Linked DNA regions of Homo sapiens: regions 1, 2 and 4 are each linked to region 3. Evidence: fine-mapped expression QTL. Tissue or cell type: whole blood. Region 3 holds a variant in brackets; each other region holds the start of a gene. Each region is shown on its reference strand, or each on the opposite one. Region 1 holds the start of MADCAM1 (mucosal vascular addressin cell adhesion molecule 1). Region 2 holds the start of ELANE (elastase, neutrophil expressed). Region 3 overlaps CHD7 (chromodomain helicase DNA binding protein 7). Region 4 holds the start of GPC4 (glypican 4).

The links. PIP is the estimated chance that this variant, and not a neighbour inherited with it, causes the effect.
Region 1: MADCAM1 starts here. The variant in region 3 is fine-mapped to the expression of MADCAM1 in whole blood (TOPMed, PIP above 0.99).
Region 2: it holds the start of ELANE, and the variant in region 3 is fine-mapped to the expression of ELANE in whole blood (TOPMed, PIP above 0.99).
Region 4: it holds the start of GPC4, and the variant in region 3 is fine-mapped to the expression of GPC4 in whole blood (TOPMed, PIP 0.92).

Annotation. Positions count from the first base shown.
Region 1 is chr19:493,062-500,115 of GRCh38, forward strand. It overlaps MADCAM1 (mucosal vascular addressin cell adhesion molecule 1), which reads left to right and starts at 3,425. Exons shown (of 5, transcript NM_130760.3): 1 at 3,425-3,490; 2 at 4,772-5,056; 3 at 5,435-5,764. The coding sequence starts at 3,439. MADCAM1-AS1 (MADCAM1 antisense RNA 1) reads right to left here. Exons shown (of 3, transcript XR_936221.4): 3 at 6,708-6,799. RefSeq lists a silencer at 2,743-2,792.
Region 2 is chr19:846,924-854,531 of GRCh38, forward strand. ELANE (elastase, neutrophil expressed) reads left to right here and starts at 5,380. Exons shown (of 5, transcript NM_001972.4): 1 at 5,380-5,472; 2 at 5,953-6,109; 3 at 6,339-6,480. The coding sequence starts at 5,406. PRTN3 (proteinase 3) reads left to right here. Exons shown (of 5, transcript NM_002777.4): 5 at 876-1,252. The coding sequence ends at 1,046. RefSeq lists an enhancer at 3,902-4,614.
Region 3 is chr8:60,730,572-60,738,179 of GRCh38, forward strand. All of the region lies in intron 1 of CHD7 (chromodomain helicase DNA binding protein 7), which reads left to right. Among named protein-coding and RNA genes, the nearest start is that of CHD7, 56 kb to the left of the region's middle. The variant C/CA (reference allele first, on the strand shown) is at 3,221.
Region 4 is chrX:133,411,116-133,418,723 of GRCh38, forward strand. GPC4 (glypican 4) reads right to left here and starts at 4,374. Exons shown (of 9, transcript NM_001448.3): 1 at 3,691-4,374. The coding sequence starts at 3,850. RefSeq lists enhancers at 4,613-5,113, 6,236-6,775.

The DNA of each region.
Region 1 (7,054 bases), not on the chromosome of region 3:
CCCACCCCCATCGTGGGCTTCATGGCTACAACTCCACACGTACACACGCACACACGCATGCACGCACACAGACGCATGCACACACACACATGCATGCACATGGCTACTTATTGAACCCCCTCCTGCAGCCTCCATCAATCTCATTCCTCCCCCACTCTCCTTGCGACCCTCAGGTCTGGGGTCCTTGGACTGGGTTCAAGCCTTGTCCAACAAGGAGGCCCTGCCGTGATGGGGGTCCTCACTCCAAAGAAAAAGCCATGAGGACCCCAGAACTGACCAGTGGGTGGGAGACAGGAGAGCTGGCCCAGCTGGGTCAAGAAGGGTCTGTCAGGGCCTGGGGCGTGCTCCGCTCCTGGACAACGGCGCCCTCACAGCCCCTTCCCCTCAGGGCAACACAGTCATCTGGAACGCTCCCTCGGCAGCTGTGGACAGGGAGGCCAGGATGTGGGGTCTGGGGCTGGTGGGATGGCTGGGACCCTCCATGGGAAGGGGGGCTTCCTGGCTGGGACCCTCCATGGGAAGGGGGCTTCCTGACGGAGGCCGCCGAGGACAATGCCGGGAAGGGGATTGATGTTGGGGGCGGGGTCGAGTCTCCCAAGGACAAAAAGGAGGTCCCCGTTGCCGGCGGAAGATACGGTGTAGGCCTTCCTGTGGGACTAGGACTCAGACCCAGGGGTCTCAGGGTCCTCCCCGGCCCTCAGGCTGCTGGCCCACCTCGGTCTCTCCATCCCTCTGCCTCTGCCTCTCTGTGTCTCTGTCTCTGTCTCCCTGTGTCTCTCTGCCTTCTCTCTTCCTCGCTCTGTCTCTGTCTCTCTGTGTCTCTATCTCCCTGTGTCTCTCTGCCTTGTCTCTCTTCCTTGATCTGTCTCTCCCTCTCTGTGTCTCTGTCTCCCTATGTCTCTCTTCCTCACTCTGTCTCTGTCTCTCTGTGTCTCTGTCTCTCTCTCTCTGTCTCTGTGTCTCCCTCACCCCCGCCTTCCCCACCTCTGGCCGTTGAAACCTGCGGGTCCCTCTGCCTCTGGGAACCCTCCCTCCTCCTTCCTGTGTCCATCCCACCTGCCCTGTCCTCAGGGGGACCCCAGCTTTGTTGTCTCCCCGCCCCCACAAGCCTGTGGATGTGAGGGCTCGGCACACGGGGACTGTGAGCAGCGTGATCACCACGCGTGACCCAGCGGGCGGGCGGGGGACAGGGCCCTGGAGAGCTGGGACACACCCTGCAAGGGGCCTCAGCCCTCCTGGCGCCCAGTGGTCCCTCCCCACCTGCAGGAAGTAGGGTCGGGGGCTGGGAAACAGCCCATTCACCAGGCCTGCTGCCCCCCGCCCGGGTTAAGGGCCCAGCTTCCCGGGAAGGGCCTGCACCTCCGGCCTGGGGAGGGCCCCTCCTCGGAGTCTGCTTTCCGGTGAGGCCTTTCCCGGCACCAGCCTGGGCAGGAGGGGGATGGGACCCAGGGAGACAGGGCTGTGAGCTCACACACCTGGGCCCTCACCTCTGAGGGGACTGTTTCCCCACCCCGGGCCTCAGTTTCCCTCCTCTAGGCCTCAGTTTCTCTCCTTTGCACCCAGCCCCTCCTCTAGGCCTCAGTTTCCCTCCTCAGCACCCAGCCCCTCCCCCGAGCCTCATTTTGCCTCCTCTGCACCCAGCCCCTCCCCTAGGCCTCAGTTTCCCTCCTTTGCACCCAGGCCCTGCCCTGGATCTCAGTTTCCCTCCTCTGGTCCCAGCCCCACCCCTGGGCCTCAGTTTCCCTCCTCTGATCCCAGCCCCTCCTCTGGGCCTCAGTTTCCCTCCTCTGGTCCCAGCCCCGCCCCTGGGCCTCAGTTTCCCTCCTCTGATCCCAGCCCCTCCTCTGGGCCTCAGTTTTCCTCCTCTGGTCCCAGCCCCGCCCCTGGGCCTCAGTTTCCCTCCTCTGGTCCCAGCCCTGCCCCTGGGCCTCAGTTTCCCTCCTCTGACAGGTAAGCCGATTGGCAATGCTTGGAACCCCATGGACTGGCTGCTGCTTTTTATTCCATGGCCAGGGAAACTGAGGCACAGACAGACCCTGAGGTCAGCAGGAATGCTCCATCATTTTATTCCCGCGTGCCTGCGGTGCATGGGGTCCAGGGTCACAGGACCGGCCCCTGGGTGGAGGGGAGCCAGCCATCACGACTGCCACCACAGGCCCTCATTGAGCTAGGAGCAGAGCACCCTGGGAACCACAGCGGAGGAGGGTGGGGGGCGAGGGGGTGAGGGGGTGGGCAGAACCTGGGTAAGGTGAGGAGCAGCCCGGGCAGAGTCCCAGAGGCCCTGGGAGGGTCCCGGTGATGCAGGGGGGTAAACAAGCCACCAGCGGAGACAGAACCAGTGTGCGGGGCTTGGAGGAACAGGTGGGTGGATTCCAGTGCGTTTGGAAGATGAGGTTCCCAGGACTCGCTGATGGCAGCTGTGAGTGGGAGTCCAGCCAGCATCCCTTCCAGATCCCTCTTGTGGACCGAGATCCAGGTCTCAGTGTAGACCAAGGAACAGAGGCAGCCCCTACTCGGGCTCCCAGGCTCCAGCCAGGCCTGCTAGGTGGGCGGCCTCTGCCCGTGTGATGGAAGGAAGCCAGGCTCAGAGATGGGGTGACTTGTCCCACGTCCTGGAGGGTCTCACAGCTCCACCACGGCCAGGAGACTTCAGTCCAGGGGGCCTCCATCCCCAGCGACCTTCACCTGACCCCCAGGGGACCCCAGCCAACAAGACCCGGCCTGCAGCTCCGGAACGGGGGAGGGCTGCTCTCCACCGCCCCTGTGCGGCCGCCCGGGAAAGTGCAGGCGGGCCGGGCGCGGTGGCTCACGCCTGTGATCTCAGCACTTTGGGAGGCCGAGGTGGGCGGATCACCTGAGGTCGGGAGTTCGAGGCCAGCCTGCCCAACATGGAGAAACCCTGTCTCTACTAAAGATACAAAATTAGCCAGGCGTGGTGACGCATGCCTGTAATCCCAGCTACTGGAGTGGCTGAGGCAGGAGAATCGCTTGAGCCCGGGAGACAGAGGTTGCGGTGAGCTGAGATCGCACCATTGCACTCCAGCCTGGGCAACAAGAGCGAAACTCAGAAAAAAAAGAAAAGAAAGTGCAGGGGACCCGCCGTCGGGGTGGGGGCGGCGCTGCCCAGCCTCTGTCCCACTTCCATGCACTTGACCTCGACCCTCCGGCCTCCGTCTGCGATCTTCCCGTGCCTGAATATGAGGCTTGGAACAGACCCAGACCTTCCTGCCTGCCCGTCCTGAGTGGCCCCGGGACCCCGCCCCATCTTTGGCCCCCAGCCCCTGCCTCTCTGCCGCCTCCAGGGTCGGGGGTCAGGCCAGGAAAGCCCCTTGGGAAGCCCCCGGGGAGCAGCTGGAGCGGGGTCGCCGGGCGGCGGGAAGGAGTGGGCGCCTCTATTTAAGCGGCTTCCCCGCGGCCTCGGGACAGAGGGGACTGAGCATGGATTTCGGACTGGCCCTCCTGCTGGCGGGGCTTCTGGGGCTCCTCCTCGGTGAGAAGGGGAGGGGGCGCGGGAGAGAGGAGTGAGTTAGGAGGGGGCTCAGGAGAGAGGAGGGGGCTCAGGAGAGGGGAGGGGGCTCAGGAGAGAGGAGAGGGCCCGGGAGAGAGGAGGGGGCCCAGGAGAGGGGAGGGGGCTCAGTAGAGTGGGGGGGCTCAGGAGAGAGGAGGGACGCAGGAGAGAGGAGGGGCGCAGGAGAGAGGAGGGGGCTCAGGAGAGTGGAGGGGGCTCAGGAGAGAGGAGGGGCGCAGGAGAGAGGAGGGGGCGCGGGAGAGAGGAGGGGGCGCGGAGGGGAGGGGGCGCAGGAGAGAGGAGGGGGCGCAGGAGAGTGGAGGGGGCGCGGGAGAGAGGAGGGGGCGCGGGAGAGGGGAGGGGGCTCGGGGGAGAGGAAGGGGCGCGGTGAGCGGGGAGGGGACGCGGGAGAGAGGAGGGAGTTAGGAGGGGGCTCAGGAGAGGGGAGGGGGCTCAGTAGAGTGGGGGGGCTCAGGAGAGAGGAGGGACGCAGGAGAGAGGAGGGGCGCAGGGGAGAGGAGGGGGCGCAGGAGAGTGGAGGGGGCTCAGGAGAGAGAAGGGGCTCAGGAGAGAGAAGGGGCGCAGGAGAGAGGAGGGGCGCGGAGGGGAGGGGGCGCAGGAGAGAGCAGGGGGCGCAGTAAAGTGAAGAGGACTCAGGAGAGAGGAGGGGGCGCGGGAGAGGGGAGGGGGTTTGGAAGAGAAGGGGGGCTCGGGAGAGGGGAGGGGGCTCGGGAGAGGGGAGGGGGTTCGGAAGAGAAGGGGGGCCCGGGAGAGGGGAGGGGGCCCGGGGGAGAGGAAGGGGCGCGGTGAGCGGGGAGGGGACGCGGGAGAGAGGAGGGAGTTAAGAGGGGGCGCAGGAGAGAGGAGGGGCTCGGAGGGGGCGCGGGAGAGACGAGGGGTGCTCAGAGTTAAGGGGCTCCGAGATAGGGGGTGATTGGTGATCCTGCCAGAGGAGGGGGCTCGGAGGAGGCAGGGGCTGAGAGGGGAAGTTGCGGGGCTCCGCGCGGCCCCCTGACCCGCAGCGAAACTGGCTCCAGGCAGCTGGGGTTCGGGGGACTGGGGCAGAGGCGGCGGTCGGGGCGGGGTTCAGGGACCGAGCCTGGGAGTCCGGGTAGCGGCGGGGCAGGGGTCCGGGGGTGCAGCGGAGGGTCCGGGAACCGGGCAGAGGCGGGGCGGGGTCCGGGGGTGGAGCGGGACGCAGGGCCGGTGGCGGGGCGGGGTCCGGGACTCCGCGGGGCTGAGCGAGAGCCGCGGTCGCCGCAGGCCAGTCCCTCCAGGTGAAGCCCCTGCAGGTGGAGCCCCCGGAGCCGGTGGTGGCCGTGGCCTTGGGCGCCTCGCGCCAGCTCACCTGCCGCCTGGCCTGCGCGGACCGCGGGGCCTCGGTGCAGTGGCGGGGCCTGGACACCAGCCTGGGCGCGGTGCAGTCGGACACGGGCCGCAGCGTCCTCACCGTGCGCAACGCCTCGCTGTCGGCGGCCGGGACCCGCGTGTGCGTGGGCTCCTGCGGGGGCCGCACCTTCCAGCACACCGTGCAGCTCCTTGTGTACGGTGAGGCGTCCCCCCGCGCCCTGCCTCTCTGACCCTTGGACTCCCGGCTCCTTCCCTATGCCACCTCTTCCTGGAAGCCTCCCAGATTGCAGGCAGGGTCCCAGCTCCATGCACAGCTCCCCGAAGCCAGGTCCCCGGCCTTCGCTTCCCTCCAACTCACCCCAACTCTCCCAGGGCCGGCCCTGGCCCATCCTCCTGTCTATTCCAGCCTCCCAGGGTGGGGCCACGGGGCCTGCGCACAGGCCGTCCCTACTGCCTGTTCATCAGCAGCCCCCACGCATCCTTGGCCCCAGCTCCAAGCCCCTCCGGGCTCCGGCCCCTCCATCACGTCCAGCCCTGACTCTGGGCTCAGCCCTCACCCCCGACCCTCCATCACAGCCTTCCCGGACCAGCTGACCGTCTCCCCAGCAGCCCTGGTGCCTGGTGACCCGGAGGTGGCCTGTACGGCCCACAAAGTCACGCCCGTGGACCCCAACGCGCTCTCCTTCTCCCTGCTCGTCGGGGGCCAGGAACTGGAGGGGGCGCAAGCCCTGGGCCCGGAGGTGCAGGAGGAGGAGGAGGAGCCCCAGGGGGACGAGGACGTGCTGTTCAGGGTGACAGAGCGCTGGCGGCTGCCGCCCCTGGGGACCCCTGTCCCGCCCGCCCTCTACTGCCAGGCCACGATGAGGCTGCCTGGCTTGGAGCTCAGCCACCGCCAGGCCATCCCCGGTGAGTCCGCTGGGTGCCCTGGAGACCCACCCGCTCGCCAGCCTTGACAAGCACTTCGGGACGGGGTGGGGGGGTGGGGGGGCAGCACCTGTGCTGTGGGGCGCTGGGAGGACTGGATTCCCCCACGCAGCGACAGCGACATTCATCGACGCAACATGTATTTGCCGAGCACCTGCCCCCCAGCACAGGTCCCACCCCTCCCCTGCCCACAGCGCTCCATGGCTCTTGCCTTGGGGTCAAAGCCCAAGTCCTCCCGGGGGCCCACAGGAACCTGCACGACCTACCCTGTCCCCTTCCTGTCCTCCCTCCACCCTTTCTCCCCCTCCTCATTCTGCTGCAGCCACACGGGCCTCCTCGCCTCCTCGCTGTTCCTCCAACACACCAGGCGTGATCCTGCCCCGGGGCCTTTGCACGGCTGTGCCCTCTGCCGGGAATACCCTTCTTCCGGATCTTTCCACGGCTCTCTCCTCCTCCCCCTCAGGTCTCTGTAGAATGTTGCCTCCTCCGTGAGGCTTCCCTGGATTCCCGTTTAAAGGGTCAACCCCTGATCCCCAACGTGTACAAACATAGGCACACAAGCACACACATGTACAAACACAGACACACACACGCGTGCACACAGGCACACACGCACACGCGTGTACAAACAGGCACACAAGCACACACGGGAACAAACGCACACACCCACACGCGTGTACAAACACAGGCACACAGGCACACGCGTGTACAAACACGCACACGCGTGTGAGCCCCCTTTCCCTTCTGTTTCGTTTCTTGACACCTTGGATAACATCTGACATCCCCCAGTCCCGTACATTCTCTTTTCCATGACCTTCTCCCACTGTGGCTCCCCAGGTGGGAATCTTGTGTCGCGCACGGCTGTGTCCACAGAAGCTAGAACAGGGCCTGGGGCATAGCAGGTGCTCAATAAACCCTTGCTGAATGCTCGGATGAAGACATTTAATGTGGGCCGGTGCCCTGGCGGTGCTCCCTTCACGCTCTGTCCAATCCCGAAGCCCCTGCCGGCTTCTCCCACTAAAGAAAAAGGGATTTGTCCTCCCATGGGGCACCCTGATACCCATGTTAATGGACGTGAGGTCGTGAGTTTCAAGCAAAGGGCTCCCGGGGATAAAGCAGAAGCTGGGAGACCCGGGAGGTCTTTGTGGTGGGGGTGGGGCTGGGGTGGGCAGAGAGGAGGCTGGATTTGAGGGATATTTTACAGAACACGGGCCCTCACGGGCCTCAGTCTCCCCATCAGTCCCACAGGGGATGGAGCAGAAGGCCAGGGCA
Region 2 (7,608 bases), not on the chromosome of region 3:
TTAGTAGAGATGAGGTTTCTCCATGTTGACCAGGCTGGTCTTGAACTCCTGGCATCAAGTGATGCCTGGCTGGTGCTCACACATTTTAAAGAAAATTCCAGGCCAGCAGTGGTGGCTCACGCCTGTAATCTCAGCACTTTGGGAGGCCAAAGCGGAAGGATCTTTTGAGTCCAGGAGTTCAAGACCAGCCTGGGCAACATAGCAGGGTGGCATCTCTACAAATAATTTAAATATTAGCTGGGCATGGTGATGTGAGCCTGTAGGCCCAGCTACTCAGGAGGCTAAGGCAGGAGGATCACTTGAGCCTGGGGAGTTCGAGGTTGCAGTGAGCTATGATTGTGCCACTGCACTCCAGCCTGGAGAACAGAGCGAGACCCTGTCTCGAGAGAAAGACAGCCAGCTACTCGGGAGGCCGAGGCAGGAGAATCACTTGAACCCGGGAGGCAGAGGTTGCAGTGAGCCGAGATCACGGCACTGCACTCCAGCCTGGGTGACAGAGCGAGACTCTGTCGCAAACAAAACAAAAACAAAACAAAACAAAACAAAAGGAGAAAGAAAGAAAGAGATAGAGAGAGAAAGAAAGAAGAAAGAAAGAAAAAGAGAGAAAGAAAGAAAGAAAGAAAGAAAAAGAAAGAGAGAGAGAGAGAGAGAGAGAGAGAAAGAAAGAAAGAAAGTTCCATATTGGAAGCATTTTATTCTGAAACAGCTGTGGCTACCCCAGCCCCCTTCCTGGCTGCCTGGGGCCAGCCCGGGTGACTGGCTGTCCCCATCCTCCCGGGAGACTCAGGTGGCCCCTGATGGGTGACTGGCCGTCCCCATCCTCCAGGGAGACTCAGGTGGCCCCTGATGGGTGACTGGCCGTCCCTGTCCTCCAGGGAGACTCAGGTGGCCCCCTGATCTGTGATGGCATCATCCAAGGAATAGACTCCTTCGTGATCTGGGGATGTGCCACCCGCCTTTTCCCTGACTTCTTCACGCGGGTAGCCCTCTACGTGGACTGGATCCGTTCCACGCTGCGCCGTGTGGAGGCCAAGGGCCGCCCCTGAACCGCCCCTCCCACAGCGCTGGCCGGGACCCCGAGCCTGGCTCCAAACCCTCGAGGCGGATCTTTGGACAGAAGCAGCTCTTCCCCGAACACTGTGGCGTCCGGGACGGCCCCACCCGTCCCCCCACACTCCCTCCCACGGGGCTCCGGGAGACAGGCCGGCCCTGCACCTCACCCCACCGTGACCTCAATAAACGTTGAAACTCCCCCTGGCTCCTGTCTGTCCTTCCCATATAGGGAGGGGAGGGGGAACTGCCCACCGTGACCTCAATAAACGTTGAAACTCCCCCTGGCTCCTGTCTGTCCTTCCCATATAGGGAGGGAACCAGGGAGAGGTCCCCTGGGTTCAAGTCCCCGAGCCCCAAACTCAGGATGGGGGGAGTCGGAGCGGGGGATGGGGGCCCAGGTTGCAGGGGGTCTCTCTCCTGGATGCTCGTGGCTGTGGGTTCTAACCCGGCCCCATCAGGGTGGCCCTGGGCAGGTTGTTATTCATCTCCGTGCCTCAGTTTCCTCATCTGGAAAATGGACTCGCCCCAGACGTTTCCTAGAACTGTCCCTGCTGGCTCAGGGACTCCTTGAGGAAGGGGATGGGGATGGGGAAGCAGCCTGGGGGGCTTCCTGGAGGAGGTGGCAGTGCCAGAGCTGCATATCAAGGTGTGAACAGAAACATCCGAAGGGCTGCCAGGCAGGGGGCACAGTCCAGGCAGAGACCTGAGGGCTAGAGGCCAGGGGACGGGGAGGAGGGCAGGCAGGGGAGGGATGTGGGTGCAGGGGAGGGGTAATGGGGTTGGAGCGCTATTTCTCGTAGGAGGGGTAGGCAGGGCAGGAGTTCCCTGGTAGAAGCATGAGCAATGAACTGGGTGGGGGGGTGGCCAGAGGGGAGGTCCGAGGCGGGGAAGAGGTGGGACTCACAGTCCAGCTCAAAGACGGGCAAGTGGCCACTAGAAGGAGGCATTAGCCACAGAGAGGGGACGACCTGCTCCAGGACACGTGTAGAGAAGAAATGAAGCTCATTGCTGGTGTTTTTTTTTTCTTTTTAATATTTTTTTGAGACAGAGTCTCGCTCTGTCACCCAGGCTGGAGTGCAGTGGTGTGATCTCGGCTCACTGCAAGCTCCGCCACCCGGGTTGAAGCGATTCTCCTGCCTCAGCCTCCGGAGTAGCTGGGACTACAGGCACAGACCACCACGCCCAGTTAATTTTTATATTTTTAGTACAGACAGGGTTTCACCACGTTGTCCAGGCTGGTCTCGAACTCCTGACCTCAGGTGGTCCACCCGCCTCAGCTTCCCAAAGTGCTGGGTTTACAGGCGTGAGCCTACTTACTTATTTACAGCTGGCCTACTTATTTATTTTTGAGACAGGGTCTCACTCTGTCGCCCAGTCTGTAGTGCAGTGGTGCAATCTTGGCTTACCGCAGCCTCAACCTCCTGGGCTCAAGTGATCCTCCCACCTCAGCCTCCCGAGTAGCTGGGACTACAGGTGCCACCACACCCAGCTATTTTCTTAGTTTTTGTAGAGACGGGGTCTGGCTGTGTTGCCCAGGTGGGTCCTCAGTGACTCTTTACATATGAACACCTCCAGGTCACTGTAATCTTAGCAATCTCCTGGCCTCCCAGAAGACCCCACGTCCCCCTCGGAGTCTACACCCGCTGTGACCATAACACCCCTACCTTCCCTGCCACAGTTAATGGTGAACCAGCTCTCAAAGCAACACTTTCTTTTTTTTTTTTTTTTTTTTTTTTTTTTTGAGACGGAGTCTCGCTCTGTCGCCCAGGCTGGAGTGCAGTGGCATGATCTCGGCTCACTGCAACCTCCGCCTCCTAGGTTCAAGCAATTCTCCTGCCTCAGTCTCCCGAGTAGCCGGGATTACAGGCAGGTACCACCACGCCAGGCTAATTTTGTATTTTTGGTAGAGACGGGGTTTGTCCATGTTGGTCAGGCTGGAATTCCCAACCTCAGGTGATACACCCGCCTCAGCCTCCCAAAGTGTTGGGATTACAGGCCTGAGCCACCGCGCCCGGCCAGACAACACTTTCTTAGCTAAGAACTTTATGAACGTGAATTTATTTCATCCTCTTGACAGGTTTATGTGATGGATCCTACGATTATAATTTTACAGAGGAGGAAACTGAGTCACGGAGAGTTTATTTCAGGGGCCTGAAGTTACACAGTGGCCAAATGGCCACACCAGAACCAGGATATGAACCCAGCGTCGGCACACTTAATAATGACTGCACGTGAGAATGTAGTATACAGCTGGTGCTCAATAAATGCAGCTGACGCCAAGTCTGATCTCCGTGCTGGAGGCCAAGCCCCTTCCAAAGATACGGCGTCCCCCACCCCTGAAATCCCCCCACCCCCGACTTGAAACAGGGCTGTGTAGACAGTAGGCGCTTACTAAGTGCACTGTGGTGATGTTAAGGCAGCAAGGTGGGAACCCTGCCAAAAGGGGAGGGGAGAAGGCAGGGTAGTGTGTGTCTGATTAAGCTGAGGACAGGGCAGACATGGACTGAGCGCCTGCTGTGTGCCAGGCTCTGGGAGGGCAGGGCCATTGTCTCCCTAACCCGAGAGCCATGGGGGTCCACTTGCCTGTGGTCACGTCAGGACTCCAGCCTGGCCCAGGCTCTGCGTGTCCCCGGGTGCCCTCGCCCCGCCTATTCCTGGAGACAGGCCCGTTGGTTCCCTTCCCCTCCCCTTGTCCTGGAGCCAGGAGGACGTTGGTTCTTGCGACAGCCTTGGCCCGGCCGTTGCAGCTGGAACATCGTGGGGGAGATGGGAAGAGGAACGGGGCCCGGAGCCCGGGGCTGGGTCCTGGGAATCCCTTTCCCGCAGCTGGGACTCCAGCTCCCCTGCCAGTTCCTCCAGGCGGAAGCCCTCAGGCTTGGTCCTCACTCCAGCCTCCCGGCCTGGACAGGAATTCTCTCTCCAGCAGCCCTGCCAGATGCCCGCCCAGCCCCTGCCTCAGGCGGGGAGGGCTTCAGGGAAGCTCACCAAGGCAGAAGGGCGGGAGAGATTGTCAGAGCCCCAGCTGGTGTCCAGGGACTGACCGTGAGCCTGGGTGAAAGTGAGTTCCCCGTTGGAGGCAACAGACGAGGAGAGGATGGAAGGCCTGGCCCCCAAGAATGAGCCCTGAGGTTCAGGGAGCGGCTGGAGTGAGCCGGCCCCAGATCTCCGTCCAGCTGCGGGTCCCAGAGGCCTGGGTTACACTCGCAGCTCCTGGGGGAGGCCCTTGACGTGCCTCAGTTCCCAAACAGGAACCCTGGGAAGGACCAGAGAAGTGCCTATTGCGCAGTGAGTGCCCGACACAGCTGCATGTGGCCGGTATCACAGGGCCCTGGGTAAACTGAGGCAGGCGACACAGCTGCATGTGGCCGGTATCACAGGGCCCTGGGTAAACTGAGGCAGGCGACACAGCTGCATGTGGCCGGTATCACAGGGCCCTGGGTAAACTGAGGCAGGCGACACAGCTGCATGTGGCCGTATCACAGGGCCCTGGGTAAACTGAGGCAGGTGACACAGCTGCATGTGGCCGGTATCACGGGGCCCTGGATAAACAGAGGCAGGCGACACAGCTGCATGTGGCCGGTATCACGGGGCCCTGGGTAAACTGAGGCAGGCGAGGCCACCCCCATCAAGTCCCTCAGGTCTAGGTTTGGCAGGTTTGGCAAAAACACAGCAACGCTCGGTTAAATCTGAATTTCGGGTAAGTATATCCTGGGCCTCATTTGGAAGAGACTTAGATTAAAAAAAAAACGTCGAGACCAGCCCGGCCAACACGGTGAAACCCCGTCTCTACTAAAAATACAAAAAATTAGCCAGGCGCAGTGGCTCACGCCTGTGATCCCAGCACTCTGGGAGGCTGAGGCAGGCGGATCACCCGAGGTCAGATGTTCAAGACCAGCCTGGCCGACAGGGCGAAACACTGTCTCTACTACAAATACAAAAATTAGCCGGGAGTGGTGGCAGGTGCCTGTAATCTCAGCTATTCAGGAGGCTGAGGCAGGAGAATCACTTGAACCTGGGAGGCGGAGGTTGCCGTGAGCCGGGATCACGCCACCGCACTCCAGCCTGGGCGATAGAGCAAGACTCTGTCTCCAAAAAAATAAATTAAAAAACCCACATTGATTATCTGACATTTGAATGCGATTGTGCATCCTGAATTTTGTCTGGAGGCCCCACCCGAGCCAATCCAGCGTCTTGTCCCCCTTCTCCCCCTTTTCATCAACGCCCTGTGCCAGGGGAGAGGAAGTGGAGGGCGCTGGCCGGCCGTGGGGCAATGCAACGGCCTCCCAGCACAGGGCTATAAGAGGAGCCGGGCGGGCACGGAGGGGCAGAGACCCCGGAGCCCCAGCCCCACCATGACCCTCGGCCGCCGACTCGCGTGTCTTTTCCTCGCCTGTGTCCTGCCGGCCTTGCTGCTGGGGGGTGAGTTTTTGAGTCCAACCTCCCGCTGCTCCCTCTGTCCCGGGTTCTGTTCCCACCTCTCCATAGAGGGCCCCACCAGTGTGGGTCCCTCATCCTCACAGGGGAGGTGCCAGCTGGGACAAGGAGACCAGAAGAGACTGAGGTTCTGAGCGGTGAAGCCACCACCAGGAGCCCAGAGTTGGGGTTTGAAAACCGGGGAGGGGGGGGGGGTCGCAGGTCGCCCTCTGGGTTCAAGTCCAGGTCTGTCTGTGCCTTGGAGGGGCACCGTGGGGAGGTCCCTTTGCCTCTCCGTGCCTCAGTTTCCTCATCTGAACAACAGGGGTGCGAACGGCCCCGATCCCGTGGGTTCCCGGTGGGGGATCCCGTGGGTTCCCGGTGGGGGATCCCGTGGGTTCCTGGTGGGGGATCCAGAGGCCCCGTGGCCGGGAGGGGACAGGCTCCTTGGCAGGCACTCAGCACCCGCACCCGGTGTGTCCCCAGGCACCGCGCTGGCCTCGGAGATTGTGGGGGGCCGGCGAGCGCGGCCCCACGCGTGGCCCTTCATGGTGTCCCTGCAGCTGCGCGGAGGCCACTTCTGCGGCGCCACCCTGATTGCGCCCAACTTCGTCATGTCGGCCGCGCACTGCGTGGCGAATGTGTGAGTAGCCGGGAGTGTGCGCGCCCGGCTCGGACCCCGCGTCCCGGTCTGTGAGGTGGGTGGGGGGAGGCCGGGGCCGGGGCTGCTGGCGGGGGGGGGTCCGTCCAGGGCCCGCGGGGCCCCTCGAGCACCTTCGCCCTCAGGCCCGTCGCCGGATGGGGACGACAAGGCGCGGCTGAGCCCCGACCCCCGGGGCCGCCCCTGAGCCCCGCCTCTCCCTCCCCGGCAGAAACGTCCGCGCGGTGCGGGTGGTCCTGGGAGCCCATAACCTCTCGCGGCGGGAGCCCACCCGGCAGGTGTTCGCCGTGCAGCGCATCTTCGAAAACGGCTACGACCCCGTAAACTTGCTCAACGACATCGTGATTCTCCAGGTGCCGCCGGGCGGGGCGGGGGGCGCAGGGGCGGAGGCCAGAGGCCTGGGGAGGGTGGAGGCTGCGACGGAGGGGCGCGTCGGGGCCGCTCGTGGGGACCTGGGGTGGCATCGTGGGCTGGGTGGTCCCCTCTCCGCGCCTCGGTCTGCACCTCTGTGAAACGGGAAAATACCCGCCATGGGCCGTTGAGGGGTTAAATGAGATCCTGCAGGGAGGCCCCGATCTGCTGTCAATCAACAAACTTACTGAGAAGGGAGGCCCCGATCTGTTGTCAATCAACAAACTTACTGAGAAGGGAGGCCCCGATCTGTTGTCAATCAACAAACTTACTGAGAAGGGAGGCCCCGATCTGCTGTCAATCAACAAACTTACTGAGAAGGGAGGCCCCGATCTGTTGTCAATCAACAAACTTACTGAGAAGGGAGGCCCCGATCTGCTGTCAATCAACAAACTTACTGAGAAGGGAGGCCCCGATCTGTTGTCAATCAACAAACTTACTGAGAAGGGAGGCCCCGATCTGCTGTCAATCAACAAACTTACTGAGAAGGGAGGCCCCGATCTGTTGTCAATCAACAAACTTACTGAGAAGGGAGGCCCCGATCTGCTGTCAATCAACAAACTTACTGAGATTCTTTGTGTCTCTCCATTCACCAGTCCTGTGGCCCAGGGCAGGGGCCGCCTCTGTCTTTGGGAAAAGGGGCAAAAGTCCCCACCTTTCCACCCCTGTCCGCGGCTTGCAGTTCTGGTTATTTCCTGGGCGCCGGGCCCCGTGGCTCAGGCCTGTCATCCCAGCACTTTGGGAGGCTGAGGCGGGTGGATCACGAGGTCAGGTGTTCGAGACCAGCCTGAGCAACATAGTGAAACCCCGTCTCTACTAAAATACAAAAAAAAAAAATTAGCCGAGTGTGGTTGTGGGTGCCTGTAATGCCAACTACTCAGGAGGCTGAGGAAGGAGAATCGCTTGAACCCCGGAGGCGGAGATTGCAGTGAGCTGAGATCACACCACTGCACTCCAGCCTGGGTCTCAAAAAAAAAAAAAAAGATTCCTCCCTGGGAAGGGTTAGAGGGAGAGTTTCCTTGTCACTAAGTTTTCTCATAGCTCTCACCCAGTGCAGTGGCGCGATCGCA
Region 3 (7,608 bases):
AAATGGAGGCCGGGCGTGGTGGCTCACGCCTGTAATCCCAGTACTTTGGGAGGCCGAGGCGGGTGGATCACGAGGTCAGGAGATCAAGACCATCCTGGCTAACATGGTGAAACCCTGTCTCTACTAAAAATACAAAAAATTAGCCGGTCATAGTGGCGGGCGCCTGTAATCCCAGCTACTTGGGAGGCTGAGGCAGGAGAATGGCGTGAACCCGGGAGGTGGAGCTTTCAGTTAGCTGAGATCGCGCCACTGCACTCCAGCCTGGGCGACAGAGCGAGACTCTGTCTCAAAAAAAAAAAAGGAAATATTAAATGGAAAATTCCAGAAATAACTCCTAAGTTTTTAATTGTGTACCCTTCTGAGTAGCATGATGAAGTATTGCATTGACCTGCACTGTCCCATCCAGGACATAAATTATTCCTCTGTCCAGCATACCCACACTGTAGATGCTACCTGCCCATTCAGTCACTTTGTAGCCATCTTGTGGTTATCAGGTCAACTGTGGCAGTGTCAACGTGCTTGTGTTCCAGTCACCCTTATTTTACTTCAGAATGGCCCCAGAGTGCAAGAGTAGTGATGCTGGTGATTTGGATATGCCAAAGATAAGCAGGAAAATGCTTCCTTTAAATGAAAAGGTAAAAGCTCATAAAGAAAAAAGTTTGTGTATTGAGATATACATCTTATAAATAAATCATAAGTATTATTTATGGTAAGAATGAATCTTCTATCAGTTAAATTGTGGGGAAGGAAAAACAAATTTGTGCTAATTTTGCTGTTGTATCTCAAACTGCAAAAGTTACAGTCACAGTGCCTGATAAATGCTTAGTTAAGATGGAAAATACATTAAATTTGTGGGTGGAAGACATGGATAGAAATGTGTTCCAACTGACGGCAATGGGGTTTGGTACTGTGCATGGTTTTGAGTGTCCACTAGAGGTCTTGGTACGTATCCCCAGGATGAAGGGGGACTACTGCATAGAAAAAATGTTTCCCAAATTTGTTATAAGTTGAAATGACTGTGAAATATTGGATATGCAACTGTTAACTCTGTATTTCAGCCTTAATTCCATCTCCTTTGTCAAATATAACTTGATTTGAAACCAAAATTTAGTGTCATAGTCACTGAATAAGTTACATTTGTTTTCTTCATTTTTTTTCTTCCTGTAGGTTTACCTTTTTGAGATTGGGTGCAGTTTTCCAAAATACTTTTTCTAATACTCTTCCAAAGATCTCAACCTTCCTTTACAGTTTGAACTCCTGTTTGTATTGCTTGCTTCCCTAATGGAAATCTGAATTTTTATAATTCCTGTGTATTTCTTTTTTGCATTGCCTTAACAGGCATGGGTCTTCGAAAGCCCTGGAGCTCCCTGTGTGGCCCCTGCCATTGGTATGCTGTGATGCTTTGCCTGTCCTGTGCTCAGGTTTATTCATGATGGATAAGACTCCCTTCCTATCACATGTGCACTGTTCTAGCAAAGAGAATAGACAAATTCTTTTCAGTTGTGATGTTGCCCAGGGTTTTGTTTTGTTTTTTTCCCTTTAAGGAAAAGAATGTCAGTGGTGTATATCAGAAAAGACTGTTTACACCCTTTCTATCCCTTGCCTTTCAAACCAGGCAGGATTCAGTACACTTTTAAACTCCCCCAGAATATGAAAAAAGATCCCTTTTCAGCTTTCCAGAAATTTTTTAAAATGTAGAAGAATGTAGGAAATTGCCAAATCAGTTAGTTAATCAGTGACAACTGCAGTCAGTACACGAAGAGCACGCTTCTTACAAGAGCAGCTAGCTGTTTGCTGCTTTCTCAGCCCCTCTGCATGCTTGCCCTTGCCTCACCTCTGCATCCTCCTCCAGAGGTTCAGTGTCAGCCTTATAGGAGCTGGTGATTGCCACGGGGTCCCCAGACAGAGCATGGCCACAGGGCAGCTCCTTCCTTCCCTTCCTTCTGTTCCACCCTCACTTTTTGTAGGCTTGACATCACCTGGAGCTTCTGTGTGTCAAGTCAGTAGCTTGAAATAAGTCTAGAATAAGTGGGAAAATCTTTCCTAATGGTGATTTTTTTAAAATCAGGCTAATAAACATGGTGTTACTAGCCTTTATACACCACCCTGGGCTTTACAAAACCCAGGATATTTTATAATATTAAGCAAGATACATACTAGCAATCAGCAAATTTTGTAAAATATACATTACTCTTCCATAAGTCTGCACTGTAAGCATTCTTGCCAGGTGGGTTGAAATACATTTCTGAAATTTAATTTTTTTCCTATCCAAAATAAATTACTTAAAAAGTTTTCATTTACTTATTTCTAGACCTGTCTCTTCATTTGATTTTCTTCTCTACCATATTACAATTAATTAGGATAACATTCAAAAGATATGAGACCTGGTGCAGTGGCTCATACCTGTAACCCCAGCACTTTAAGAGGCTGAGGCAGGAGGATTCCCTGAGCCTAGGAGTTCAAGACCAGTTTGGGCAACATAGTGAGACTTTGTTTCCCAGGAAAAAAAAAAAATTAGCTGGGTGTGGTGGTACACAACTATAGTCCCAACTACTTGGGAGCCCGCACTGGGAGGATTACTTGAGCCCAGGAGTTGGGAGACTGCAGTGAGCTATGATTGTGCCACTGCACTCCAGCTTGGGTGACAGAGCGAGACCCTGTCTCTTAAAAAAAAAAAAAAGATATGGGATAGATACACATATTTTATGTAGCTACATATGTGATCTACACCTAGGTATGGTATATATAGATACATGTTTGTCTTCATTTCTCTTTTGCCATACAATGTTGAGTACTTCAGGTGCTATTAGAATGTGTGCCCATCTGTTCCTAGGACATGTTGTGTACATGGAATGAAGACCCTGCTGGACATATTTTCTTAGTGTCTGCACTGCGGCAGCAGGTCAGCTGTCTCCACGTTAGGGTCAAGGTGCTGGCCACCTTCTCAGTGGGCTTAGCCTTTAGGAGTTAGCTTCAGAGAGGTATTTGAATTTTGAATTGCAGGGTGTAAAGGACACAAATTTTCATGATCCTTGTGCTTTTGTGGCATAATTTATGTATGGGGTAATATACTCCTTTTGACCACTTTGGAAAAAGCTAGTGCTGTGGGCATGCACTTAGTATAAGCTGTTAGCCAAGTGCTATTTCATTAGTTGCCTTGAAAGGAAACGTTAGCCTCAATACTGCATGAAGGAACAAAAGAACAGCTTTTTTTTTTTAT[C/CA]ATAAAGGCTACTCAGAATATCCAGAGTCTTCAAAGTTATGTAGAAATAACTGAAAGATTTCTGCAAGAAACCTGTGAAATAGTATGTTATGTAACATAGCATTAGATATTAATGTTAACTGCATTTTTTTGACTTGCACAAATGATTGGCAAACAGATGGGCATATCTTTAAAATTAAACCATCTTTAGATACCCACTCCTTGTAAACTGTTACAGATTAAATTTGTCACTAAGGGCTGTTCATAATTCTTTGAATGAAGTCAGTATTGTTTATTTGTCAGACACAAATGTCAAGACTACTTTCTTTAAGTGACATATCTTTGTATTGCTTTATAATATTCTTTGTAACATGTGCCATTTGTTGTTGATCCATTATATTAACTGAGTGGTCAGTGTGCTATCCTGTAGGAGGAGCTCAGAGTCTGAGGGCAGGACTTCCCAAACTTTCACATGCACAGGAATCACTTGGGGCCTTTGTTAATAAAGGCAGATTCTGGTGCAGGAGGTCTGAGGTGAGCCTGAGAGTCTGCGTCTCTTACCAGCTCCCGGGGGTGCCAGGGGTCCTGTCTCTCAGGATTCCACTTCACATGGCAAGGCTCCAGTCGCCAGAAAGAGAGGGAGGTGAACACATAAGAATAGTAGCGTGCTTGGCACTTTTGTAGCTTCTGCCCATGTTGATGTGGTGGTACTGCTAGCAAGGGCTTTGAAATCAGCCTGAAGAGGGAGGGTTGAGGGTCAGGAAGCTTCCGAAGATGGGTGATAACAAAGGAACTGAGATGAAAAAGAGGCCAGCCTCTACAGTGAGGGGATAAGGAGGCCAGGGAAGAGACCATGGGTGTGAAGGCGAGGAAGGTATGAGATAGCTGATGGATGGTTGGTAAACTTTGAGTAGTTTGATATACCTAATGGGGGTGTTTGTGAGTGCTTCAGGGGATAGAGGGAAGGGAGTTAAGGGAGTTGAGAATGGACAGGTCAATAAGGATTTGATTATTAGTGCCTTCAAGCATGCTGGAGCATTTGGACTGGAACCTGAAAGCTATGGGAGGTCCTTTAAGGATTTTAATCAGGGAGAGGTATGATGTAATCTGTGTTTTATAAGATCATTCAATCAGTAGTGTGAAAGCGTTGAGACCAGAATTAGGAGAACTGATTAGATTTCTAATTTTTTGTGGTTCACTAAACCATGAAGGTCTGATTACTTCAGAGCTAGTGTAAACAGGGAGGAGGAGTTAGACCCATAAATATCTGGGAGAGAGCATTAGCAGGTTGGGAAATGCACTGAATATGTGGGATGTACTGGGGCGTTTATTCAAACTGCAAGCTGCACGAGGACAGGGCCACATCTGCTTCGTTCAACACTGTATACACAGTGTCTGTTAACCTTGAATATTTTTTAAATGAATGATGACAGGAAGGATCTAGGCTTATTTCCCATTGTTTGGCTAGGTTGAAGAGGTGGATGGAGATGGTGTTACTGTCATAGCGAATGCTAACATAAGGCGTAGCGTTGCCCTATACGATGTCAGTGGTTTTCCTTATTAAAAATGTGTCTCTTCTGTTAATATCAGCAAAATGGGAGGTAACCTAGTAATATGAATGGAGGTTACCAGTACAATCCTTATTACTATTTATGGTTTTATTTTTAATATGATGCTTGGGGACAAACAGACCTTAGAAGGACTTCACATACTTCTTTTTTTTCTAAATCTTTTTCTGAATTGTGTATAGTTGAGAATTATTCCTAACATACTGAAAATTATTTATGAAGAAATAAGAATATATGTTGGGAGATAATACAGAAAGGAGACATAGGTTGTAAGTATAGTTAACATAAAATATGATATATGGAAAAAATAACATATATTTCATCCCAAAGGGTAGATATGGACCTTTAAAAGAATACTAATCTCTGAAAGAGGAGAAAATATTTTTTATGAAAGAGGATTGCTGCTATTTAATATGGTCTTTGTTTAAACATGTTACCTCTAAGAAGAAATACATAGGAGTGCTTTCCATGTAATTTTCTGCAGTGATGGAAATGTTCATTATAGGCACTGTCGAGTAGGTAGCCACCAACCACATGTGGCTTTTGAGCACTTGAATGTGGCTTGTGCGACTAAGGAACTGAATTTTAAGTTTTATTTAGTTTAAGTAGTTTAAATAACAACATGTGGCTGGTGGCTTCTGGATTACACAGCACCGTCATAGAGTATTGGCAATGCCCTAGCATACTAATGAGGAAGAAAATGTGGTCTTGGCCAGGAAGAAAATGTGGTCTTGGCCCCCTTGGCCAACCCAGGGGGTTCAGGAAGGGCATCATTTGACCCATGAAGCAAATACGGAAAATACTTTGTGGTGAACTGATAAGCTGGTGTTGGTGACTTGGGGGGCACTTCCTGATTCTTTATCCAGGTTCTTGTCAGTTGGATAGATGTCTCCTTCATCAGCAAGCATTGGTCCTGCTAGATGTTCCCAAGTGGCTGTTGGGGGCTGGGTTGTGGGTGGGGCAGTGGGAGGAGATTCCTGTTAACCGGATTCAGGATCTAGCTGAAAGGACTTTCACTTTGAGTGGAAGCTCAGCAGTGTGAGCCCTTTGTCTTCGGTCTGTCCACCTACCAGTGTGTGGATTCTTTGCCTCTCTTGATATGTTTTGCAGCCTTGATGATTGAGAGGTGTCTCCATGGGTTATGATGAGGGTGGTGATGTGCTGTTTTTTTAGCTGCAAAATGCTTCCTTGGAAATTCTGATTCATGCTCCACCCTCATCCCCAGAATCATTATCACAGTGATGTTCTATACCTCACGCTCTTTGGAGGTGGAAGAGAGAAATTTAAATAGAACAACTCAAAATCAAACCATAAGCAGCAAAATAGTCTTCAGTATCCAATAGGCAAATGTCCTATGATTTCACTCTTGCCCACGTGTTGGCTGTTTATCAAAAAAGTTTCCCTTGGATGACATTTTACTTACACAATAGGACAAATAGTGTTTGAGCTATAGGAGATACTTTGCATGTGAAAGGTGTTACGTATTCACCTATCTCCTTGCTAGGTTTCTAGTCCACACCTGTGACGCTAAAAGGTTCTGCGTCACTACAAAATTAAAACTCAGCTATACAAATGCCATTCTACTTTGAGAAGAGTGTAGTAAATAATTGTTTATATTGTTTTGGAAGGTCAGAAAATCACTATATATAAAATAAATTTAATAAGTAAAAATTTAACATGTGTTATAATTAAGAAATTTTATATATACATATATTTTTCAAAATATTAATATTTTCAGTGACATTTCTTTCATCTTGGTTTCTTGCGCACCCGTTGCTTTTATCATTGATTCTGTCTGTGCTTGGATCTGCCCGTTTTTCATTTGACTATTTCCCAATAAAATTTACCAATAGCTCCAATTTGGTGTTGATATATGCTTGTTTCCTAAAAGTTATATATAGTATGATTTAAAAACATTTTTGGAAAGGAAATTCACTTCTATTTGCTGATGGCAGCAGCAGTTTTAGTGATTCTCTGAATAAAACAGACTTGATGCAGGCCTTTAATATTTTGTCCTCACTAGTAAGCTGCTGTTTCATTCATTCATTCATTTCTTTCATCTTTGGGAACTGTCACTAAAATGTTTTGTAGAAGAAGTTTACTCCTCTCAGTCTATAAAAGGATTTTTTTCATCTGTTAAATGAGGAGGGGTTTGGATTAGAAGGTCTTCAGAGTGCTTCCTAACTCTGAAATGTTTGTAATTGGTTTCACAGTGTGCCTCTAATGTTGATGATTCTGTTAGTTGAGTGGTCTCGTTGTGACCCCTCCTCACCCCCAAACACATGCATCTTCTGAACTGTCCTTTAGTTCACATCTCAGAAAATGCTGGCCAATAGGGCACTGAGTAGAAACTTGAATTACTATGTCTCCATTATATGCATAGGTACCGTTTGCTACATATTCTCACATTTAGTTAGACTATTCCTCATCAGAAGTTACCGAGGAGTATTTTGTAAAATGGCAACCTATATTTTTAATAACATAAGCCCTGAATCTTAGTTCTTATTTAAGAGATGCATCATTTACAGATATATAAGCTCCATGAGGACAAGAGGGAATTTTGTTTTATTCACAGATCTCTCTCCAGCTCTTAGACTAGTGCCTGGATCATAGTAGGTGCTCAGTAAATACATTTTGAATAAATAATTGTGATTTGAGAGTTAATTTTTATGTAACACCAAATAAAACATAAATGCAACTTGAATGTTTATTACCCAGGTGATAATTATGAGACTTTAAAAAATTTCATTGCTAATTTGTTATTTCTGTTTCTTCTTTTTAAATACTTTATGCTGTCCAGTATGGAAGCCACAGCCCCATATGTCCATTTTTTCACTTGAA
Region 4 (7,608 bases), not on the chromosome of region 3:
CATAACAGCTTATAGGAGTCCTGGAATCCTTTGTGCATGTACATATGTATGTGTGTGTGAGCACATGATCATAGGTGCATTGCTCATGAACACAGAAGGGAACAAGAAATAAAAACTCCAAAACTGCAACTAGGGCACAAAGTTCTGAGTATCATTCAATGTCATTGTGAAGAGGACCTTTGGCAAGTTCATGAATGCTTCTAACCCACTGCCTCACTCTTAAAAACAATTTCAACATAGATGAGTAATAAAATGCCCATTGTTGCATACCCTTTACCTTTGTCTTTATGGAGGGAGGCATAATGAAAATGGTTAGATTTTTAAACTTATCTTCATTAGTATTTTCATTTTTACTAGTGAACTAGCTTTACCCAGTTAATATTCTATAGTATTAGAGTCCTAAATCCCTTCTCTCTTTGAAATGCCTGGGCACTCCCTTCTCGTCATCTGTATCGCTTGTATGGCACTTATCACCACTGTGTTGTATTCTAATTTTGTGTGTGCGTGGCTTATCTCCTTACTAATAGGAAAGGTCCTGGTGGCAGAAGCCCCTCCTGCCTTTCTTGCTGTCTCCACAATGCTGAGCAGAGGATACTGCACATAGTGGGCGCTCCAAAAGTACATGGCCATTGAAAGCTGAACAAAAACATAATCTTTGTGTTAAAGATCCCTTTTGATCATGGCACCTGGACTCAGCATTATTTGAAAAGTACAGGGGTCAAGCAGACAGGCAATGCAGGACCTCAGTTGGAAGCCCTGTCAGCATGATGTACTCCCTGACACCCTTGAGAGCACATCAGATGATCCTAACTATGATCTATAAAGACTGAGACTCCTCCAGAACATGGAGTATTCTTAAAGCCTGTTCAAACCTCTAGAAGGCAAGTGCAAGGCCATCTGGAATAAAACATTAAACTTGGGCTGAGCCTGGGGCTCAATGAGCTAGGTACCCAGACTTTGTGATACTTCACCTGGAAAATGATCCTGGGTGTTTTGCACTGAAAAAAGCACATTCCCCATCCCAGGCAAAGTGCCTGGCAATTAATCCATCCAGACCTAGGCTGAATACAAGTCACTATATTGACTATCCCCCTTAAAAAATGACCAAAATTATCTGAGTGTAGCTCAGAGAAGACAAGGCTAATGTATGCATCTGGAGAGGCCAGGGTGATGGTAAAGATTACGCCTGTTTCTATACTGGCCGTCTAAAGGTATTTACTTGGGTCTGTCTGTGTTGTGACAGTGTCCTAGACTCAAATGAATGCCTCTAACACTCCACATTTTTGAGCCATTCAGTCATGCATTTTTGTTATTGTTGAAAGTGGTGCGAAATTGCACTGCATGAGCTAAAGTCCTTGGTGGTCTTCCAAGGATTCCAGCTAAAAAGGCACTTCCTTTGTTCCTCAGGAGAATGCAGTCCAGTAGGTCATTCAAAAGGGGAAATAAAAGCAGCAGCCCAGGGAGGGAGATGAAGGACAAGACAAAAAGAATAAAATGTTTTGGGTGTGAGCACATTAGCTTCCATTTCCTGCTGCTGGTCACTAATAACTCCCCTATCTTTGGCATGGGGGAATGTCCAGATAGACATATACGCAAAATATCCCTCAGGTGATTTCTGGGGATGATGACAATCAAAGGGAACACCTAGCACAGAGTCTCTGAGCACCCTTCAAGCTTCCTTTTTCCTGAGATGCTGGCTGGGGAAGATGCCCTGCCACAGCGAAAGACTGCACAGAGCAAAGTTGGGGAAACTGGGGAGGGCAGTTTCACAACCCCACTCGCTGAATGCCTGCAGTCAATATCAAAGGCACATATTGTTTGCATGAGCAGAAGATGAAACCTTGTCACATTCCCATTAAGTGCAGAGCTGCATCTACCCCTTCAAAATGTGGGAATGACAACTGTAACCTTCACGCCAATCATCTCCGCTGTGCCCAGGCCTAAACTGTGCAGGGCACAAAGACCCCAGGTTTGACCTGCAGAGTCCCCAAGCTTCAGCGGCTGGTGGTTCACTTCATTTTTTTTCTGGCGGGGCAGGAGGAAGGGAAAGAAAGAGGGCTTTTCAGGGCTCTACAACCAATAAAATCGTGCCGCTTTGAGGACATACTTGAGCTCCCCAAAAGACAGGCAGCTGAAGGGCAAACAGTGTCTAATCAGTAGTGAGCATGTTATTTGGTAACTGCCAAGGTGCAGTGGGCGCCTGGGCTGCTCCAACAATTTCTTCGCTTCTATTTCTAGACAGACGCCAGTTACACTCCAAAAGTGCCCAGCAACTTCCCTCAATTACCTTTGTAATTAATATGTAATTGATGACTGCACTTAATCTCCAAGGTTATTAATAGCCCTTCCAAAAAATGACCCCCAAATCTTCCTAAGCCTTTGGAAGCGCCTGGTTGAAATTACAGTATTTCCTTTGCTGGCTGCCGGCCCCCTGCCCGCCCCACCCGGAGACCAGCACGGCAAGGCAAAGGCGCGCTCCACTCACTTCCATGAAAGGTTCGGAGTGGAGGCTCAGCCCCCCCCCCGGGCTCGAATCTCTCACTCCTCCGTTAGATTACGCTGGCCACCAGCCAGCTAGATTCGTGGTGCTTTCTGAGCCCCCAGGGCGAACGGGCTACCTGCGCGGCCGGCGGGGCTGCGCGCAACAGTTGGCCGCTGCTAAGAAGACAGTGCGACCCGGAGGGGACCCGGCCGGACACCGCCGCCAGCTTCGCTGGGAGGGACGCAGGGCACCCGCCGAACGCTGCCTCCCCAGCGCTCCGAGAGGGGCTTTCACAAATACCCCCATACACCCCCCATCCCACCCCACCGGCGCCAAAATCCGGTGAACTTTCTCACAGGCTAAGCCGTCTCTATTTGCATAACCATCTCCAAACTGAGATTCAGGTTTCCTGTAATCAGTCCTTTCAAAGGTCTGTAATTGAAAGTGCAATTAACCCTTAAAATGAGGTAAGAAAAAAGAAAGAGGGGAAAAATACTCCTCTGGTCTGATACCTTCCGGAAAGTAGGAGAGTTCCCAAAAGTCAGGGTTTGGAGGGGTGGAGAGTGGGGGTAGTCGTTTGCTTTTTAAAGGCGACTTCTGAAGCGGTTGCGGCTACTAAAACTCCTAATCCTTGTCAGCGGTGCAAGAGAGGCGGGGAGAGAGTTTTAAAAGAACATCAATGAAACATCAATTCAAGTTCCACGTTTTGCGACCCCCAGAATCTAGCAAGCTCCGGGACGTTTCCCTCCACCACACCCCACTGGCGACCCCCACCCCCACCCGGCCTCTCCTCACCCATACAACAAAGCGGGGCGTCCTATAAGGAGTTCAACCCGGAAAAGGAGAAGTAGCCGGTGACACGCACTTTGAGGGCCACAGTCCTCAGGGGCTTCCCGGGACGGCGAATAATGCAGGGGGGAGAGGAGGAGCGGAGGCGGGGAGCGGAGCGCGACAGTCGCACTGGGCAACCCGGCGGCGCCCCTCCGCTCGCAGTGCTGGGAAGGGGGGAGCGCTGCGCCCGCGGGGAACGTCCTGCGCCCGGGCTGCCTGGCTCTCTCGCTCGCTCGCTCCTGCCCTCTCGACTGCCCATTTCTCCCTCTAGTGTACCTGCGTCCGGCGCAGGGGGCGGCGGGGCGGGGGAAGGGAGTTGCAGCCTCCCTTCCCGAAGTGTCGGTCTCTGCGCCCACCTCCCGGGTGTGCCCACCTACCGTTGATCTCGTGGAGGGGGGCATCGTTCTTGTTGAAGCCTTTGGACACGTAAAGACGTCGCACTTCCGAGCAACTTTTCGACTTGAGCTCGGCAGCCAGCAGCGCGGCGCTGAGCACTGCCAGGGTGCAGAGAAGCGCGGGCAAGCCGAACCGTGCCATGGTGCGGGCCGGGGCGGACGCGTTCCCACCTTTGGGACCGGACGGGAAGCGGCGCTACGGCAGCGGGCCGAGGGCTGGCGGAGTCGGGGACTAGCGAGTGGAGCTGGAGGGAGAAGGAGTTGGAGTTGGTGGAAGAGGCGAGCAGGCGGAGGAGACGCGGGGCGAAAAGTAGAGCTGGGCCTCGCGTCAGGCAACGGTCCCCGGTGCCAGGCGCCGGGCCAGGGGAGAAGGAGGGCGTGGAGGCGGCGCGCGGCCCAGGGAAGCAGAGGCGCGGGCTGGTGACCTCGGGGTTTCGCGGGGCAGCGAACCCGGCAAGCTGACTGGCCGGCGAGGCGGGGACGCGGGGAAGGAGGGAAGGGTGGCAGGCGCCGCGGGGACCGCAGAGGGTGTGGGCGGCGGCGGGCGTTCGCTGCGCGCTGCTTGGGCTGCCCTGCGCTGGTCCGCTCGTCCGGCTGGACTCGGCTCGGCTGACTCTGCCCTCCGCCGCGCGGCTGTGCCCTTCTCAGCTCTGCCGCTGATTGACTGGCCGGCGTGCGCGGCGACGCTCCGCAAACTTGGCCAAGCGGGCGGCACTCGGGGGGAGGGGGCGGGCGTCGTGGGGGGGCCGGAGACAGGCGGGAGCACGCTGGGCCGGGCCGGGAGAAAACCTGGAAGCCGGGTTGGATCCGGAGCGGCCAAATCCACTTCCTAGGGGGCCGCACCGGGCGCCCGGCGCTCCTTCGCGTGACACGCCCCACCCGGCTCCTCCTTCCTCCCCTCCTCCTCGGAGGCGGGGAGCCAGCCCACCGCCCCCCAACCACAAAGGGAAGGCCAACTACTCCGGGCTGAAGGGCCCAGGTTCTGGGGAACGGGACGGCCTGGGACTTGTCCCGAAGCCCATGTCTGAGCCCCAGGCCTTCTTGCGCGCGGCCACCTGACCCGCCGCCTATGGGCAAAAGCCGCGCGGAGCCCTCCCGCCGCGATATCCGCCTCCCCGCTGCCATCCCGCACCCGCGGACGCTCCTATCCGCGCAGCTCCCGGGCTGGGCGGGGAAGGCACATTACTCGCATTGTTTCGCTGCAGGCAGCAGGGGGATTTGGGGCTCCGAGCTCGTCCTAGAGCCTCACCTGGTCTCCCCAGACCTGCTTCCCATAGGACGGTACTCGTGAAACACCAGTTTGTCCAGGACCCCATCAGGCATCCTCCTTCCCGCATCCGCAACACTCCAACCCCTCGACGCCACTCCCACCCCCGACCCGGTTCTACTACAAGTCTAACCGAACTCTGAAGCGGGAGAAACCCCCAACCGCGAGGTGAGGGGGCAAAGACAGGGTTGACCGCAGAGATCTTGGAGACCATTTGGCCCAACCCTTCCTTCTATTAAGGGAACTGGGGCCCAGAAATGGGAAGCGACTTGGTAAATAGCACGCCGGGGAAGGGGGCGTCCAGAACCCGGGACTCTTGACTCTCGAATTTCATGGAATAATGGTAGCCCAGGACTCCCAAACCCCCTACCCCCTCAAGCCCCTTGAGAGAGACTGACACCCCTCTGGGACTCAGTCCCCACTTTTCCACCAGAAAACTGGAAATGGGAGAGACTTCCCATCTTGCAAGCTTTGTCAGATTCCATTAATGAGTGTTTTTTTGAAGCTCCCAGCGCTCCTTAAATGAAGGGAACTGTGCAGCTCGGGAACTTGTCATTACCGTTGTTATTGTTACAATCTGCTTTAAGAGGTTGGGTTGAGAAGTGCCTCAGACACCTCGGGAGTGTGCTGGGAACTGGGCAGATAAAAAGGGCTGGAACTTATTATTTGGCTAGACTCTCAATTCCCATAAAATTACATAGGGCAAAGATACGAACCATCATTACAGTTATCACCCTCAGAGGGTTTGTTGAGACTTTCTCCACTGTTGTTTGTAAACCACGTTGACATGGCTGGCTATGAGGAGCTGTTATTTTGAATACCTGCTTGCAGACTCTTCTACATTTTGTTAACAGACTATCAACATGAACAGACTGTGACCCGTCTATAACTGTGACTTCCAATTTCTGTGGGCTGGCTGAATATTTAACTCTGAAACTAGGAGAGCAATTTTTTTAATGTGCAAACTCAACTACAATTGAATTTCCTGCCATTTTCAAGACTTTCCTTAAACTGGTAACCATCAAGTCCTGAAGGCATTGCTAGGGCTTAGCTGAGCACTTTTAATTTTCATTGATTGATACATTTACTTAAAGATGTTCTTCACCAAGGAGAATATGCTCTGAGATGCAACGAGCATTATTATAAAATGGAAGCCAGTGACCGTAAGAGAGAAAATGATACTCCTGAACCATGAAGGCCAAATCAGAAAGCTACTTCTCACACCAAGGCTGGGAGGAACTCATTCGTTGCCGCCGCTCCCCCCCGCCGCCCCCGCCCTCCCCAGGTTTACTCCTGCTCTTCCTCATAATGTATTATTAACCCAAACTTGAGCCTTTTCCACCAGAAACAGTAACCTCTGGCTACAAACAGATCTGGACAAGTCTGAACTTTACCAAGGGAGGCAGGAACCCCAAGCCGTGCTCAGAGGCGGCTCCCACTTCAAAGCCTCCTTTCATTTAAATACAAACAGGGTGAACAACTGGCAATCTACGAAACAAATACCATCCAGAAGGGAAGCTTTCTTTTCAGATGGGCCAGAACTCCTTCTTCCCTCTCCCACTCCCATCCCTGCTGTCTTCAGAAGAGGCTTCTTAGTGGAGATGCACCTACTCCTTGTAAGTTCTCTCAACGCCAAAAAATAGAGACTGCATGTTGACTGCAAAAATCGATGACTTCTCAGGCTGATTAACCGTCATATAACTTTTTTTTTTTTTTGCTTTTTAGAATTGTGGTAAAAAGCACACACATACGCAATTTGGTATCATTTTAACCATTTTGAAATGCACACTTCAGTGGCATTTAGTACAATCATAATGTACAATCATCACCACTAGTTACAGAACATTTTCATCACTCCAAAAGGAGACCACATACCCATTAAGCACTCAAAGTTCATTCTCTTCTCCTTCCAGTCCCTACAAACCACTAATTTGCTTTGTCTCTATGGATTTGCCTGTTCCAGACATTTTGTAGAAATGGAATCATACAATACAGGGCTTTTGTGTCTGACTTCTTCCACTTAGCATCATGTTTTCAAGGTCCATCCATATGGTAACATGTATCAGTACTTCATTCCTTTTTATGACTGAATAATGTTCCATTTACGGATATACCACATTTTGTTCATATAGCACTTTACAAGTTTGCACAGTGCTTCCAGGTGCACCCTCATATCTTAGAATATTTTGTTTTTTGTTTGTTTGTTTTTAATTGATAAGCAAACCAAGTCTCAGCAAGGTTCTGTGGCTTCTCCACAGCCACAGAGCTCTTGGGTGGCTAAACCAAGACTGAAATCTAAGGCCTCTGACCAAATCCCATGCTATTTTTGTTGTGGTTGTTGTTGTTGGTCAGAGAACACAGTGCTCTGGGTCTCTTTTACTGTCAGCAGTGAATGTACAACTGCCAAGGTCCTGTGGAAGTATCTTTGTTTTAGATTGATAAATGTTCATTGAACACCTCCTATGTGCCTGACAATGTTCAGTCCTAGAGGAAGGGAAGATGTATAAGCCAAAAGGAGTTTACAGTTTTATAAACGGTGTGCAAAGGCTTGCTTAGATAGAATGCACTAATGGTATACTTGTTTTTCCCAGGTCAGGAGTTTCCCCTGATATGACACTGGGAGGGGGAGGGTA